Linked DNA regions of Homo sapiens: region 1 is linked to region 2. A link means that fine-mapping ties the variant in region 2 to the expression of a gene that starts in the linked region. Tissue or cell type: whole blood. Region 2 holds a variant in brackets; the other region holds the start of a gene. All regions are shown on one strand. Distances are from middle to middle.

Region 1 (8,101 bases), 35 kb after region 2:
TTATGAGCACACATGCACACACACACACAGGGGGTACATGGGTGAGCACAAAGTCCTGGACAGGTCTTAGAAGCCTTGAGTTTTCTCTTGGTTCTTCCTCTTAATGGCCCTGTCACCTTAGAGAAACTACATACCTTCTGTGGGTCTATTTCCTCAAAAGAAAAAATGAAGAGGTTGACCCAGGGCAGTGGTCCTCAAACACAGCCTTGCCCCAGGATCACCTGAAGCACCTGTTAAAATCTGGATTCCCAGGCCCCACCCCTCAGATTCTGACTAGTCAATCTGGAATGGGCCTGATGATCTGAATGTTTTTAATTTTGAGACAGTCTCACTCTATTGCCCAGGCTGGAGTGAGGTGGCGCAATCTCGGCTCACTGCAACCTCCACCTCCTGGGCTCAAGCAATTCTTCTGCCTCAGCCTCCCAAATAGCTGGGACTACAGGCCTGCGCCACCATGCCTGGCTAAATTTGTATTTTTAGTAGAGATGGGGTTTTGCCCTGTTAGCCAGGCTCGTCTCGAACTCCTGCCTTCAAGTGATCTGCCTGTTTCAGCCTCCCAAAGCCACCGCGTCCAGCCAGGATTTTTTTTTTTTTTTTTTTTTACAGAGTCTTGCTGTCACCCAGGCTGGAGTGCAATGGCGTGATCTTGGCTCACCGCAACCTCTGCCTCCCGGGTTTAAGCAATTCTCCTGCCTCAGCCTCCCGAGTAGCTGGGATTACAGGCGCGCACGCCACACCTGGCTAATTTTTTGTATTTTTAGTAGAGACAGGGTTTCGCCGCATTGGCCAGGCTGGTCTTGAACTCCTGACCTCAGGTGATCCACCTGCCTCGGCCTCCCAAAGTGCTGGGATTACAGGCGTAAGTCACCGCGCCCGGCCCAGGATCTTTATCTTTAACACATTCCCCAGGTGACTCTGAAGCAAATGGTCCAGGAACCCGCATTTGAGAATCCCAAATGAGATGGTGTTTTACAAGCCAGCATCTGGACTTCTATTAAAAAGCCACTCCTGCCCAGATATATACCCCCAAAAAACATGTCCATACATATGGACATGTTTACCCCACACAGGGCCATAACCTGAAAAGGTGTGCACCATACAGATGATGCACATCTGTCTTTTATGTGTGCATATTCCCAAAACACCCAACACAGAACCACCACATAGATCACAAATTGCCCGGAACCACCACATCAGCATACACAGGGTCTGGGGGGAGGGGTACACACACAGATACCCACCACGCACCCAGTGTGTGCTCACACACATCTCATGCAGACCCACACTAAACAGACGCTGTCCTGAATTTATTTTGCCTCTGGGAACTGGTCCAGGACCAAAGGAGCTATGCTCTGCTGATGAAAACATCCCTCCCACCTCTGCCACCCCCACCCCTGCCCCTTGCCCCAGGCAGCATGCTACCCACCTCTCCCTTGTAGGAGGAGGGAGACTGGAGGAGGGCAGTGGGGATGGGTTGGGAGGAAACAAGAGGCTAGGCCAGCGACTCAAGTTGCTCAGGGCCCTTCCGGGCGTCCAGCTCCCCTCTTTCCCTCTCCCTTCCCCCCAGAAGACGCCAAAGGGCCTTCCCCCAGCCCGCGAGTCCATGCTCACTCAGGCCACTCGCCTAGATTCCCAGGCCCCTGATCCTAGGGAGCCAAAAGGGTTAGGGAGGTGGCTAGATCTGGGGACTCCTCCTAATACTCAGGCCTCTAAGGAAAGGGCTGTCTGGGGGCACCTTCCTGTAGCCCTAAGGCCTGGGGCCTCCAGGGAAGGTTACCACAGAAACAGGGGGAAAATATTACAAGGAAACACAATACCCGGCAGGGTCACCTGCTGACCGGGCTTCCTGCTGTGTTGCCCACCCCCAGCTCACTGCTCTCACAGCCTCCTTCTCCAGCCTTGGCCTGGGCCTCCTCACCAAGGCTCTCCTTCCTGCCTCCCCAGAGCTGGGAGAAGCAGTCTTAAGCAGAAACTCTGCCCCTCCGTGGTTCCAAACAACAACATCGAGGATGGCCCAGAGCTGAGCCCCCCACTCCTAATCCTTACCAACCCCTCCTCACCATCACCACAGGAAATCAAAGCTTCCTGCCCCAAAGGAAGTGCCCCATCTAGTGAACAAATCCAACACACACAAATGCACAGTCCTGGGAGCCTCCGGGAGGACAGATGCCCTCCCGCTAGCCCCAGACTTTATTCAGGCCCTGCTTCCAGCAATACCCCACACCCCACTGGAGGCCTCAGTCCGAAGTCTAACTGAGGGCAGGCCAGGGAGAGCCAAGCTGTGGAGGGTGGGCCAGCAGAATGGGCACTGGCAGAGTGAGAAGGCCTGGTTCTGGCCCCCTCCGCCTGCCATTCCCTGGCTGTGTGACCCTGGGCCTTGCATTAGCTCACCTTCTCTCAGGCCCCTGCCGACTTCAAAATTACCAGCCCTTAATGAAAGGCCAGGAGAAAGAAGGCAAAGAGGAGATGGGGTTCCACAGGCTTCTGTCTTCCAAGTCCTTGGGCATGCTTGCCCACAGCTACCAGAGGGTCCCCACTCCCTACCCCATCACACATGAGTTTCTCTCTTGCTCAAGGGTTTTATATCAGAATTGAGAAAGTTCCAGCTTCCATGCCAAGAGGCCACCAAGGACTAAAGCTGAGGTCCATTATCCCTAAGCAAACTGGAGGGGGTGGATAATAGCACAGTACCTTCATTCTCCTCTCCATAGTCAACCTCTTCTGCTCTGCTCTGAGAAGTGTGCTTGGAATTTTCTCCCCATTTTACTGATGGGGAAACTGAACTTCAGTGTCAAAGTGGAGTGAACAGCTTAGACATGCAAACTTCCCTGCCCCAAAACCCACTGTAAGACCCGGTGGCCACAGAGACACCCGCCGAATAAGGGACACAGAGGCCTCTGGAGAACACTGCACCAGGACCATTCCAGGTGCAACATCAGGAGGCAGCTCTGAGCTTGCCTCTGAGCCTGGCCCTGCTGGGCAAGGAGGGACATCAGGGGACTAAAGGCAGAGGACCAGTCCCAATAGGTCCAAGACCTGGTTCCAGTCTAGGTTCACTGGGCTGGGTACCACTCACTGGGACTACTCTGTGCCTTAGTTTCCCTCAGAAATGACTGCAGAGAAGAAGAAAATGACTTAATAACCCATGGGTAGCGGCAGCCTAGCAGCCTATGGAGTCCTGGGAGGGGGAAAGGGCCGCCAAAGCGTCTCATTGGAGGGCAGGGACCTGAGTCACAGTCTCCTGCCAGCCCTATAGCTGAATAGGGGTCCTGAGGAAGGTCCCACAGGTCCAGATGCAAGTCCAGGGAACAGGCTGAGAAGTTGATCTTGAGCTCCCAGCAGGGCCGCTGAGGGCCGATGCCCCATTCTCACCCTAGAAAGCGGCAGGCAGAGCTGGGCCTCAGGCAGATGTTGCCTAGGGGAGTGGGCAGGGAGCGTTGGCAGCGAGACAGCCAGTGTCCAGATGCAGGGGGAGGCCTTTGGGTGCGCAAGACAGCCAGCGGGGAGAAGGAGTGAGGAGCAGCCGTGGCTGGGGAGGTCAGACCCAAACGGGCAGCCACAGCGGGAAGCAATGGGGGTGGGGCACTGGGTGGCCTGCGGGCCCCAGAGGGCTCTCTCCTGGCCCACAGGCCTAGAAACTCTGGTCGTGGGAACCCAGCCCATCCGCCAAATTTGCCGCCTGCTCTCACACTCCCCAACACCAACAGACCCCAGGCCTGGGGGGTGCACATCCTGTCCCCCACCCCTCACACAGCCTGCGGCGCCCCGCTTCCCGCGCCGCTGCCGGCATTGACCTCCACAGCTCACCAGGGCACAGGTGTCTCTTCACCCTGATGGGTGAGCAAGGATGGGGGGCAATGCTCAGAGAAACCTCCCAGCCAGAGACCCCTCCAAGGGACCTCTTTCCCCGCCGAAGGATCTGAGTAGGGCCCTGCCCGGCTCCACGGGATGGGGGCGCTGATGTCCAGCCCCACAAAGCCCAGCCCCAACTCAGTGGGTCCTGCCCTTTGCCCTCGCGCTTCCAAACCTTCCGCCCCGGAGCACCGCCCCCTCGCCGGGCCACCGCGGCCGTCCCTCCCTCCCCGGTCCCTCGGCTCGTCCTCCCCGGGAACAGGGGTGATGGGACGTGGGGCCCGCACACCGGCGGCCGGGGCCTCCAACTCCCTCCCTTGGGCCTGTAGCTGCCCCGGGGCGGGCGGATGTGGGCGCCCCGCGGGAGGCCCGAGCCCTCCGGCCCCCGGAACCAGCTCCGACCCGGAGCCTGCCAGAGCCCCGCGGAGCCGGGCGGGACAGGCGCGGTCGGGGGGCGCAAGCCGGGCTGGGCCCGCGGGGCTGGCGGGAGCCCGAGCCGGAGCCGGAGCCGGAGCCGGGGCCAGGGCCGGAGGCCGAGCCTGGGCGGGCGACGCTGGGTGCCGCGCGCAGGGCGGGGCGGGGGGCGGCCGCCCAGTACTCACCAGCGCCGGGGCTGTGCATCCAGGGGCCGGGGCCCTCAGAGCGGGGGGCTCATGGCGGGGCGGGGGGCTGGGGCGCCGGCCTCACATCCCCCCAGTCGCCGGAGGCTGCAGAGCGACTGTGAGACGGCGAGAGGAAGGGAGGGGGCCGGGAGGGGGAGGGCCCTGGCAGCCCGGCCGGCCGGGTAGGATGACAATGGAAGGAAATGCTTTATCTGAGTCTGAGAGCGGGCCAAGGGGGAGGGGAGGGAGGGGGCAGGCGCTCGCGGCCCTGGGACACACCACCCCGGCAGACACTGCACCGCGCGGCGCACAGGCGGGCCGCAGACACCGCGCGCGGCCAGATCGCGGCGGGGCGCGGCGCACTGCCGGGGAGGCAGCGCCGAACCCGGAACGCCGGCCGCGGCTCCGAGCCCCAGCCGCCGCGAGGCGCTCCGAGCCGTGCACAATTCCCGGAAACCCAGCTACCTGGGCGCACGCACCCTCGCATACACAACGTACACGAGCACGCATCCATGTTTACAAGGGGCAGAATCATTTACACAGCACACACTGGGGCTTCGGGGTGGACCCCCGTGCACACACTACATACCCGTACAGCCCACAAGCACGCAGCCACACGCGGGCACAGTGGGACACGCGTGGTGTCCCATGTCCCATACAAGGAATCCCAGACGGACACCCCCCACCACACACACACACACATAAGCACGACTTGCCTCAGGAAAGTTCCAGGATCTGATTTGAATCACTGCCCAGCCCTCCCCCACTGGCACCCCCACACACACACCATGCCTGCTGAGGGGAACGGAAGGGTCCAGCCTGTTCCTATTAAAAGAAAAAGGGTGTGGGGGTGGTGCAGATTTTGAAAGTTTTCTTTTTTTAAAGAAATTTCTCAAGGGACTTCCTTCCCTCCTCTCCTCTTCCTCTCTTCCTCCCATTCCTCTCCCTCCACAACCCCCCTCTTTCCCCCTCCCGGTCCCTATGAGTCAAACTTCAGCAATGTGCCCAGTGTCCCCCAGTGCATTACAGCGGATCACAGAAATGTTCCAGTCTGTGAGTCGGAATGCAGCCGCCTCCAGCCCTCCCTCAGCTAATAAACTCAGCTCAGGGCCGGCTTTAGGCAGTGGCCCTCCCTGCCTCTCCCTCCGCTTTTAGCTGGAGAGAAGGTCAGATTCAGGGGTCAGGGGCTAAGGACCTCGCCATTGTGCTTCCTGGGCTAGCCGGTCAGCCGTGTCTGCCTCCAGCAATCTGGAGCTGCTCCTAGGAAGGGGAGAGGTCCACCACGCAGGAACACTGGGCTCTCTGCAGCGTGAGGCGCCACCATTGTAAACCAAGGAGCAGCTTCCCCTGACCCCATTCTATCTCCCGCAATCCTAAGAAACCCCAAGAATCCAGAGAAGGAAAAATTGAGGCAGCCCCAGAGGTGGAGTCATGTCTGATTGGAAGCAAGAGCCCACAGTGGCCTAGGAGGGCTTGGCCATGCTGGCGGTGAACTTCAAACCATAGATTCTATTCCCTTCCCTCAGGCACAGCTCGGGACTCACTATCTGTTGCTACCGGCATATTCAGCGTGGGACTTCTTACTTCAGCCCCTTTCCTTGTCCCAGTTCTCCTTCGGCAGGCAGATCCAACCCCTCTGCGCTTGTTAACTTACCCTCCCAAAAGCCTTTCCTGGCATTCAAGTCCTCCTACAACCTGGCACCACACTCCATACACATCCCTGCCCAGTGCCTCCTGGTACTTAGGGCTCAGTAGTGTTAGTCACTATTATTACTATCATTATTTCTGCCAGACTGGGCTGCTAGCTGCTTCCCATCCTGTCCTCACGCTTCCACACTCCCTTGCCTTCGCTCATCATGCTGCCTCCAAAAGAAATGTCCTCCCAGCCCCTTTCTCCTTCTGTTGAAATCTTTCCAATCCTCAAGACCCACTCCCTATCTAGTGGGAGGGAGGGAGGGAGGGAAGGAAGGAAGGAAGGAAGGAAGGACTGGAAGAAAAAGAAAGTGGCATACCACTTTCTCCGGGAGGCTTTCCCGGATTCCCATAGCCAAGAGGAATTCTTCCCTGAACTGTGTGGTCTTTATACATTGACCTTCGCCCACCTAGTCTACTTGTCTCAACTCTCTTCCTTCCAAGAGCATTCAAGAGTGGATATCCCTGAGTCCAGCTACTGCCTTGGTCATGGGTGCATTTCTTGTAGTGTCTTGCACAGAATTCAAACTTGATGTGAGTTATTTGTTGAATTGGGACAGATGTTCATGACTTTCAAGAACCCTTCTCCAGCTGGACACCTACAGTACATTCTTTCACCCCATAACTACCCATGCTGACTCTCCAAGACACATGCTGTTCCACCTTAGGTATGTCATCCCCAGCCCTCAATTCCAAGCCAGATCATCCTCCTTCCAAATGCCTCTTTGGTGTCCACAGACTCCAGAAAAACTGCTTGGTTACTGCAGACCCCCAGCGACATGCCTGCTATCTCCCTTGTCTAGCTCCACAATTGATCCCAACCCCCAACACACACATATCCGTAGCTTTTCTGTAGCTATTTCTGTAGTAAAGCCAGGCCCTTTTATGCTCATTTCTACCATGTGCATTGTGCATACATTTATTTGTGAGTCTTCTTTCTCTTTTTAAACTCATCACTGAGTTTTGAGTGATCTGAATTAAGAGGCTATCTCCCTGCCTGTCTGTCCACACAGTGCCCAACATGTGGCTTTCTACACACCAGGACTCACTGCCTCCAACATATAGTCAGAGAAAAAGACAGCATGTGCAACCTGCATCTGGGAAAGCTGGACTGTGTCTCTCCTTCCCCTGCCAGATTTACTTACCAGACCCCGCCTCATGGCAGAGTCCTAAGCCAGTTTCTAAGTCACATGTCCCCTACCAGGATAAATTAGAAAGCCTCCAAGAACCTTAGAGACATGAGACAGAGAAATGCAAGCTACCTCTCTCTCTTCTAGCCTGGTTACCGTGGGGAGCCTTTTTTTAAAAAGCTCTTGAGTCCAGGCCTCTCATAGCTTTCTCAGCTGAACACCTAGCAGAAGAGACTGGCCCCAAAAGACGTGCCTTGGCTTCCTGAGCCTTCCCTAGAGTCTCCGGCCAGCACAAAGCCTGAGGGCACCCCAATCTGCTTCCCTTTGGGACTCTGGGCCTACTTGACCTTCTCTTCTCCTTTTCCTCTCCTTCTTTCCTTAGTTAGCTACTGTTTACCATTTACTGCGTAGCAGTCCTTGCTATCCCCTGGACAAACATTAGATCATTTATTCTTAACAATAATCCTTGTTATGCTCATGAGTAAAGCATGGCCTTTATGGTTAAGAAACCTGATCAAAGTTGCACAACTAGTAAGTGACAGGGCCATTCATTCATTCAACAAATATTATTGGGTGCCTACTTTGTGCCAGGATTTAAAGCCCCAGAAAATTATCCAAACTTTCTGATACCCTCCGTTCCCAACCTTCTAGATGTGGGGGCCATAGCCACAATTCCTCCGCCAGCCTGCACTTATCCTCACACACTTCGCACAAAGCCAACCAGAAAGTGCTCCTTCCCCAAGGCCTCAGTTCAGTGAGATCTCAGTGGACACTCATTGTATTGGGTTAGTTTGGATCTTGCATTTCAGTTTCTGGATCTGGAAT
Region 2 (8,101 bases):
TAGGACCTGGACTCAGCCTCTGAGATGTTGGGAGAGGCTACTCCCACCCCCTGGTGACCCCAGAACTGTGGCAGAAAATACACAGCAGGACGAGTGTGGTCTCCCAGGAAGCTGTCCTGCCCGTCCCCTTTCGAGGAAACCTGAGTGTGGTAGAGAGGGGATCCTGCCATGTTGCTCCTCATCAGCCTGGCCAGAGGGCAGCTTTAGACCTTTTCAAATGAATCTGTTTTCTTTTCTTTCTTTTTTTTTTCTTTTTTTTTTTTTTTTGAGATGGAGTCTTACTCTGTCACCCAGGCTGGAGTGCAGTAGTGCGATCTCAGCTCACTGCAACCTCCGCCTCCCAGGTTCAAGCAATTCTCCTGCCTTGGCCTCTCAAGTAGCTGGGATTACAGGCATCTGCCACCATGCCCGGCAAATTTTTGTGTTTTTAGTAGAGACAGGGTTTTGCCATGTTGGCCAGGCTGGTCTCGAACTCCTGATCTCAGGTGATTCACCCGCCTCAGCCTTCCAAAGTGCTGGGATTATAGGTGTGAGCCACCGTGCCCGGCCTGGATCTGTTTTCTTAGCACGCAGTGAGGAATCTTTGTACTTAAGGCCAGGGCAACAAAGTCAAGAGGTCAAGGTGTAGGGCCATGAGGCCTGGACCTATGCTGCAGGCAAGGGTTTCCATCCCCGCTGCCCTAGGCACTCTCTTCCCAAGGCCAGGTTGGGCACCTGGGGAGGTCAGTTCAGAAATATCTAGCAGAGACCTCTTAAACCCCCATCCCAGCACCCCATCCTGTTGTTCCCAGAGCTGGTCTCCCATGAGTGTGCTAGAGCCAGATAGCCGTGGCCCCCCACCCATCTCACTCACACACACAGGCATCCATACACCCCAGAAGACTTCCCAAATGAGGCCAGACTCAGGGTCACGGGGAATGTGCTTCTGCCCCTGTAAGGGCTTTGGGGAAGGGGGCAACATAGTAGAGGCTGGAAAGAGCCCCCAAACCTGTACCCATGCCCCTCCAGCCCTGCGTTTCCATTCTGCCTTCTCAGAGTGCCCTTGCTGCACCCAGACCACCGGCCAGGAGAGACCTTCTCTCCCACTCCAGCCCCTCTCACTGCCCTTCAACTAGAGCTTTCACCTTTTTACATTTCCCTTCTGAAGGACACAAATCTGCTTTTCTGCCCATACACTGGCCCAAGGGCTCACCTAACTTGGGAGGGAAGGGGCTGTTGGTACAAGGATGATTTTCTGTTAGACTGCCATTTTGCACGGTCTCCCCCTTCCCATCTGATGTGTCCTGCCCCTCAGCTCTTTGCCTTATCTGTGTCACTGTCACTTTAGCAAAAATACAGCGGCCATTTGTATCAGCCTCTGGTGGTTGCTTGTGAGGTGGGACTCTTGCGGGAACAGGTGGACTTTGGGAGGAGTGGGCAGGGAGGGAGTGGTAGTGGCAGTTCTCGAGCTATCTGATTAAGCCATTCCGCTAGTTCAGTTGTGCCCTGGAGGGCAGGGGACAGAGTCAGTATCTCTGGGGCTGCAGGCCCTCTTGCCTTGGCCCTCCTGGCATGGGGTAACCACCAGCTCAGCTCTCCTCCTCCAGCTTTCCTCTCTCTAGCACACCCCAGCCAGGGCAAGGATGCCCACGGGCATAGCTACAGCAACCCCTGCGGGATTTGGTGTCCACACCCGAGAGGCCAGGCCAGATGGGAAAGGGATTAGCGCCTCTTCCCTCACACTCTGCCAGGCTGCCAGGAGCTTGGGCCAGGTCTAAGGTAATGAGGTGCTCCTCTTCCTGCTGGAAAAACCGGACAGACTCAGAACCACAAAGGCAGGTGCTGCCAGCCTGGCGCCTTCCTCTCTGCTTAGGCTGGGTGAGCTTGTCCAGGCCTGTGCCTCACCCCTTCTCTCTTCTAGGCTCAGTGTATGCTTAATCAGGCATGGTGCATCAGAGCGGGAAGGAGCCATCAACAGTGTATACTTCTGGAGCCTTCTACTGATAAACAGAGGCCCCAGAAGACGATTTGACTTACCTGAGCTCCCAGCTGGGACTTAAACCCAGGTGTGTCTGAGTCACAACTCTTCGGGGATGCCGTGGTGAGCTGGGGCTGAGCTCCTGTATTCCCACTCCCCCACCCCACCCCCACTCCTGCCATATCAGGGCTGGTCTCTGTGGACTCAGCCCAGGGCTGCCTCCTCTTTGTCACCCCAAAGTGGGGCAGCCAGGGACAGCCAGGGTGTGTTCAGAATGGGTTCTTCCTGCAGGGCAGGAAGGGCAGATTGTTAAAGGGGCTGCGGCCCAGACCACCCTGGTCCCTCCTCCGGCAGTGACTCAGACCCACACTGTGCCGTGCAGCTGTGTGCCCTGCACACCCGCTTGACGGCGCACTGCTCACTTCTGGGGGGCCCTTTCAGAGGCACTTTTAAAGCAAATAAAACATTTATTGTTCAGATTTTTTTCCATTTTCTTCCTTTTTACAAAAACATGCATACATACACAGGGTATGGTGGGTCCTAGGAAAGACACACACACACGCCTCACTCACACACACGCTCACACACACGCCTCACTCACACACATGCTCACACACATTTTCCTTCTTGACCCCAGGCCTGGACCCCCAAAAGCCTTGAAGACTTTGCCAGAGCAGCCTCCCCTCCTCCATGTCTGTATCTTCTCTCCCACCCCTTCCCCCTCAGTCAGGCTACTCCTATGTGGGGTGGGAATCAGAGCTATGGTGGGGGAGGCCCCAGAAACAGAGAAGGCTCCCCGAGTGGGCAGTGGCCGAGGGGTCCCAGGGGTATGCTGCGCTTCTTGGGGAGATGAAGGGTTTGGCACCATTGGATCAGGAAGCACAGGACTCCCAGAGCACCCATCTGCTCCACCAGGGCATCGCCAGGAGGTTGATGTAGGGGGGCCTCTGGCGAGGGTACGGACCAGATGGAGGGCTGCCAGTCTCGGCTGTCAGGGAGCTTCGTCTCAGTGCCCAGTGGTAGAGGGAAGCTTCCAGAGTCGTCTGAGGAAGCAGGTGAGAGGGACTACCCCTGCACTCAGGAATATGGGACCTCTTGGCTCCCCACTCCCCCCTAGCCCCTAGAGCCTAGGAAGGGCCAGCCTGTCTGAGGCCAAGTTCACATTTCTGTGTGGAGCCTGAGGCTGTGTGCAAAGTCTGGGGTTTGCAGAGCCAGGAATAGTGGTTAAGGGTGAGCCCGACGGAGCCGGAGCCAGTCCTCCTCTGTGCAGTCCTGAGGAATGGGGGCCACAGCCAGGGCCCATACTGGAGGGGAGAATCTGTTCTCGAGAGCCCTGTGGGGGTCGCCGCCCAGCCCGTCTCCTCTCAGGGTCCTCTCCAGTTCCCATTCTAGACCCAGGGATTTTCTCACGCTCCCTGGGATAACTGTCAAAGCAGGCAGGCTGTTCTCTGGTTCCAACTACTTGCCCACAGGATCTCTAAAGACCCAGGAATGGGGGCTATTGCCAGGGGTTAGAAGAGAACCAGGTCCCAAGGGCATGGTGGGCGGGCAGATGGTTCCAGAGCCTTAGAGATTCATAGGTTCTTCCTCCTCCACCAGCTGCTCCGAGGGCCTGTGGGGAGGGACAAGGGTGGGATGCTGGAGCACCAGGGCTGCAGCAAGGGCCTTAGCTAAGCTTCCTCTCAACCCTGGTCAGGAAGCCTGGGAGGGTTGGGGTGGCTGCATAGCGGACCCGGGGTCTTCAAGCAGGGAGGAATGAAGCGGTGGAGAGGCTGTGGGCCCAGGGCCAGGGGTCTGGCATTACCTATCTTCAGCCAGGATGCCCACAGAGAGGGACGCCAGTGCGGTCACTGCCTCCACTTCTTCTTTGTCAGCCCCTGGCACTCTAGGCACCCAGGAGTCTGGACAGGAGGCCAGGCGCTGCATGCAGCCCCAGTATTTACCTGGGGTAAGATGCCAGGTCAGAAAGGGTTGGAGAAAGCAAGCCCCTCCACACTGCGTCCTAGACCGGATATTGAGGTTGGTGTCTCAGGCCCAGGGCCCCGGAGGAGCGGGCCTGTCCTCCACTTAGGGTCGGCTCTCCCACCTGCCCCTCTCCTCACTTCGCTCCCACTCCCGCACAGCCTGACAGGGTAC[A/G]CAGAGTGGGTTCAACATGGCTGTGAGGGAGTCCTAGCAGGTGCCCAGCCTTTCTCTCATCCCCTGTGGCTGCAAGGCCACCTTTGACTCATTCCCCACAGGTGCGGGGCTCCTGAGAGCATCAGGAGAGCCTGCTTGCCTGCAGACAGGGTCTGTGTCACAGTGACCTCCCAGAGCCCCAAGCTCGGGCCTCCCACTTAAACACAGCCCCCACCAGTGCTCAGCCCAGCACTCAGGAAAGGAGGGCCTGGGAGGTGGGACGAACACAACATGGGAGAACTGACCATCACCACGGCCGCTCTGCATGGGTGCCCAGGCCAGGAGAATGCTCCTCCTGCCTGCTGCTGTGAGGAACCATGTCCTGGAATCTGGCTCAGTGTGAGGGCACCCACCGTAAGAGGAATCAGCCATGTCTTTACCATTATGTAAAGACATCACGGCTCCCCTACCCAGCCCTTGATATGGGAATCTATTTTACTCATTTTTATCCCTAGTATAGATTATGGGTCTTGACATAAGATGCTCAATAGATGTTGAGTTGAAGTTGAAAATTTAAAGTACTTTACAAATGTGGGGGTTATCCCAAGACGCAGCCCCCAAGCCAGCAGAGCTCCTGAGACGCCTGTGGCCAGGACTGAGGGGAGGGATGGGAACCAGGCCTTTTGGCAAACAAGGCCTGAGTGTTGCTCTTGACCTGGCCCTGGTCTAGGGCTGTCGCTAGAGATGGAGGCCAGTCCCTACCTTGAGGGGCCACTGTCTGGTAGGCCCTGCTGGCTCCATCGGGGGGGCTCAGAGGATAACCCCTCACTGGGGGGTGCTCACCATTGCTGCCTGGGTCACTCACAGGAATCTTACTCCAGACCAACAGCAGGTCACCTGGCTGGCACCGGAAGCCCTAGGATCTGGCCACGGTGGGGCAGGGTACCACCAAGATCCTTCAGTCTGAGCTCAGCGAGTGTCCCATCTCCACACTTACTGTGCACCCGGATCACGGCCTCCAGAGAGCGGATGGCATTGAGGTTGGGTTTCTGTTTCCAGCCTTCTTCTGAAAGGGGATCCACCTATAGAAAACAGTACATCAGCCACCAGTCTCTCAGGGACCCACAGGCCCAGCTCACTCCCACCCCAGGGGCCCCAGCCTTCTAGCCACAAGCACACTCTACCTAGGCCAGGAGATGCTGCCTGGACCTAACTTGGAACAGAGGCTTCCGCTTCGCCTACCTTGTTTCAGGCTTGGCCACTCCCACCCTGTCCCATCCCATCTGCCTGCTCCTTGGGTAGTCCTGAGAGCCGGGCTTACCTGCCTGACAGAAGCATGGATGGGGGAGGGAGACGGCTCACCCTGTTACCCAGAAGAGCAGCCACACAGGCCTCAGAGGCGTCACAGATGGCTGTGAGGTCATGGCCACCCTCCAAGGCCAGCACCACTGCGCCTCCTGCCAGGTTCATCAGTTGCTGCGTCATGTATCCAAAACCTAGAGGTTGGGAGGGGAGAAATGGGAGGGGCGGGAGTGGAGAGGTGACCCTGTTCTCTACCCCTGTGGCTTCCCTGCTTGCTTCCTCCCTAATAAAGAATGACTCACATGTATCAATCACTATTTCCAAAGTGCTTTCACATTGAATGTCGTACAAAACCTACTAGTATGCTTCACTCAAGGCTCAGGGAGGTTAAGGGCCTTGGGAAAGGCCCCACAGCTAGTAAGTGGCAGCAAGGTAGGACCTGAACTTGGGTCATTGACTCTAGCCTGTGTCTTTTTCACTGAGCTACACCCTCTCTTCTTTCTGTACTCTGGGCCCTGTGGCCACCCTCTATTCTGAGAGTGCTGCTTCTCTCTCCCCTTCCTCTGGAGGAGCTGCCAGCCCACCTGGAATCAACCCAGCTGTGGTGGGGAGTCCCACGGCTGAGCTTCCTGCCTACTGGACTTAAGTCCCCATGGGTATGACCTGGTCAAGCCCTCCGTGGTGAACCGGCCTGGTCCTGAGAAAGGGCTTGGGCTGTGCTCGGCTAGGAGATCCCGGGGAATTTCAGGACCAGCTGCCATACTCCAGTCCTCAGGCTGAAAGCCCTGGGCTGGCCACTGCCACCTTCCCTTTCTGACTTGGGAGTGCCTCCCAACTCCCCGCACCGCCTGGCTCTCTGTCCCTAACGTCCCCCTCAGCTGAGGCTCCCTTACATTTGGCAGAAACATGGTAGCCACCCAGTGGGGCCGGGTGACCCTCAGCAGCATCAAATCCAGCAGACACCAGGACTAGGTCTGGAGAGAACTCTCGGGCGATGGGCATCACGACTATCCTGTGAGGTCACAAGAAGTGGCGATCATCGTACTGTGCAGGGTTGCCAGGGGCGGTCCTGCCAACTTTGCGGTGGGGCACCCTGTTCTTAGGACTCCAAGGCTCCCAGTGCCCCAGCACAACTGGCAGATTTCTCTGACCTCCTTGACCTTGGCTGGCCACCCATGTCCCTGGCACACACAGCCTAAGGACTCAGCCCCCTAGGGGACTTAACTAGCAAGAGGCAGAAAGGAGCCAAGGATGGAGCACCAGAGGGAATGAAAGAGGAGTGTGTGTGACCATGTGTGTGTGCATGTGTGTGTGTGCATGCAAGCATCTGTGGGGTGCAGTGGCCGGAGCCACAGGGAAAGGGTAATCTCACAGCCTTGCGGAGATGGACTCTGGTCACAAAGCTTCAGGGACTACAAGTGCTCAGTCCTTTGGACTGAGTTGACCACACCCAGCTACTCACTACTTGAGAGCTGAGTAGGGGACAACTAGGTCCTCTGAGGTTCTGCGCCACCTGGCTACATTCTCTCATCCTCTCCCTCTTCCAGGCCCCCCCCCAGCTGCCTTCCTCTACCCCTGATCCAACTCTGGGGCCTGCTTGGGTGTTCTTCATAGCCCTGGGCTCTGAGAAGACTCCAGGAACTCCAGCCCAGGGCTCTCGTAGAATTAGCTGTCATGGAGATAACTCCAGAAAAGTGTTTGAAGATCCATTTCCAGAATTCTCTTTTCCCAAATAGAGTGGCAGCCTTCTCTGACTAAATGTGCCAGCTCTGCTCACTCCACCACCCACCTGCCAGCAATCAGTTTGACATTGGCTCTCGGTAATGTATGCCTTTGCAAAGCACCCTTTGACTTTTGCATTCTTCTCTCTGTTTGTCCTATTCTCACTGGCGTTCACCTACAATGTCTAGGAACTGGTGGGGACAGGCTGACAATCCAACTGATCACCTCCCCCCTGGTGCTCTTGGGAGAAGGGACAGGAGAGGGTGGACTTGCCCCTCTGGGCCCCCAGAGCACGTACCTGAAAGCAGCCAGGTACTCAGGATCCCCCATGGGGGGGTCCAGACCTCCAGCCCAGGCCACATTGACATTGAAGCCCTCACCGCTGCCAGCCCCTACCTGGAAAACAGGAGGCAAGAGAGACATGAGGACAGCAGAGTCCCAGAAGGGGAACACCAGTTTGTTAGAGCTGCCAGCCCAGCTCATCCAGCCTCCCCATTTCCAGGTGGGGAAGTTTAGGATCAGAGAGGCTCAGCAGTCTGCCCAGGATCACACAGCTCGTCATGACAGAGGCAGAGTAAGTGTCAGGAGGAGGTCAATGAGGCTGGAAGATGTGGCCCTGACATGCGGTTACCTCATCCACAGCCCCACTCCCCGGGAAGAAGTTGCCGTCGTCATGGCGATGCAGGGAGATGTAGAGCACACTGGGGTCTTGGTAGAAGGTTTGCTGGGTGCCGTTGCCATGGTGCACGTCCTGTGTAGGGAGACGGGCAGCGATTAGGGAAGGCAGAGAGATGGGGGCCAGGACAGGTTAGAAGGGTTTCAAGGTCAGTGGCCATTCTGAGGTCAGGACCCTAGACTGGGATCAGGAACCTGGGGTTCCTAAAGCCACACGGTCGAGTGGCCCCACGTAATCCACTGCCCGGCTCTGAACCTCGGCCTCTCTGTGCTGGACAGGGCTGGCTGTAATATGAGATCCTGAAGGAGAGGAGGTGTCCCAATCTCAGG

The links. PIP is the estimated chance that this variant, and not a neighbour inherited with it, causes the effect.
Region 1: it holds the start of HDAC7, and the variant in region 2 is fine-mapped to the expression of HDAC7 in whole blood (INTERVAL, PIP 0.94).

What each region holds. Positions count from the first base shown.
Region 1 is chr12:47,815,313-47,823,413 of GRCh38, forward strand. It overlaps HDAC7 (histone deacetylase 7), which reads right to left and starts at 4,591. Exons shown (of 26, transcript NM_015401.5): 1 at 4,455-4,591. The coding sequence starts at 4,473. RefSeq lists enhancers at 1,786-1,895, 2,142-2,802, 3,520-4,093, 5,432-6,353 and silencers at 4,002-4,311, 4,322-4,401, 4,542-4,881.
Region 2 is chr12:47,780,318-47,788,418 of GRCh38, forward strand. SLC48A1 (solute carrier family 48 member 1) reads left to right here. Exons shown (of 3, transcript NM_017842.3): 3 at 1-2,434. It overlaps HDAC7 (histone deacetylase 7), which reads right to left. Exons shown (of 26, transcript NM_015401.5): 20 at 7,728-7,847; 21 at 7,395-7,492; 22 at 6,268-6,386; 23 at 5,435-5,568; 24 at 5,070-5,154; 25 at 3,762-3,900; 26 at 2,405-3,569. The coding sequence ends at 3,524. Among named protein-coding and RNA genes, the nearest start is that of SLC48A1, 11 kb to the left of the region's middle. The variant A/G (reference allele first, on the strand shown) is at 4,094.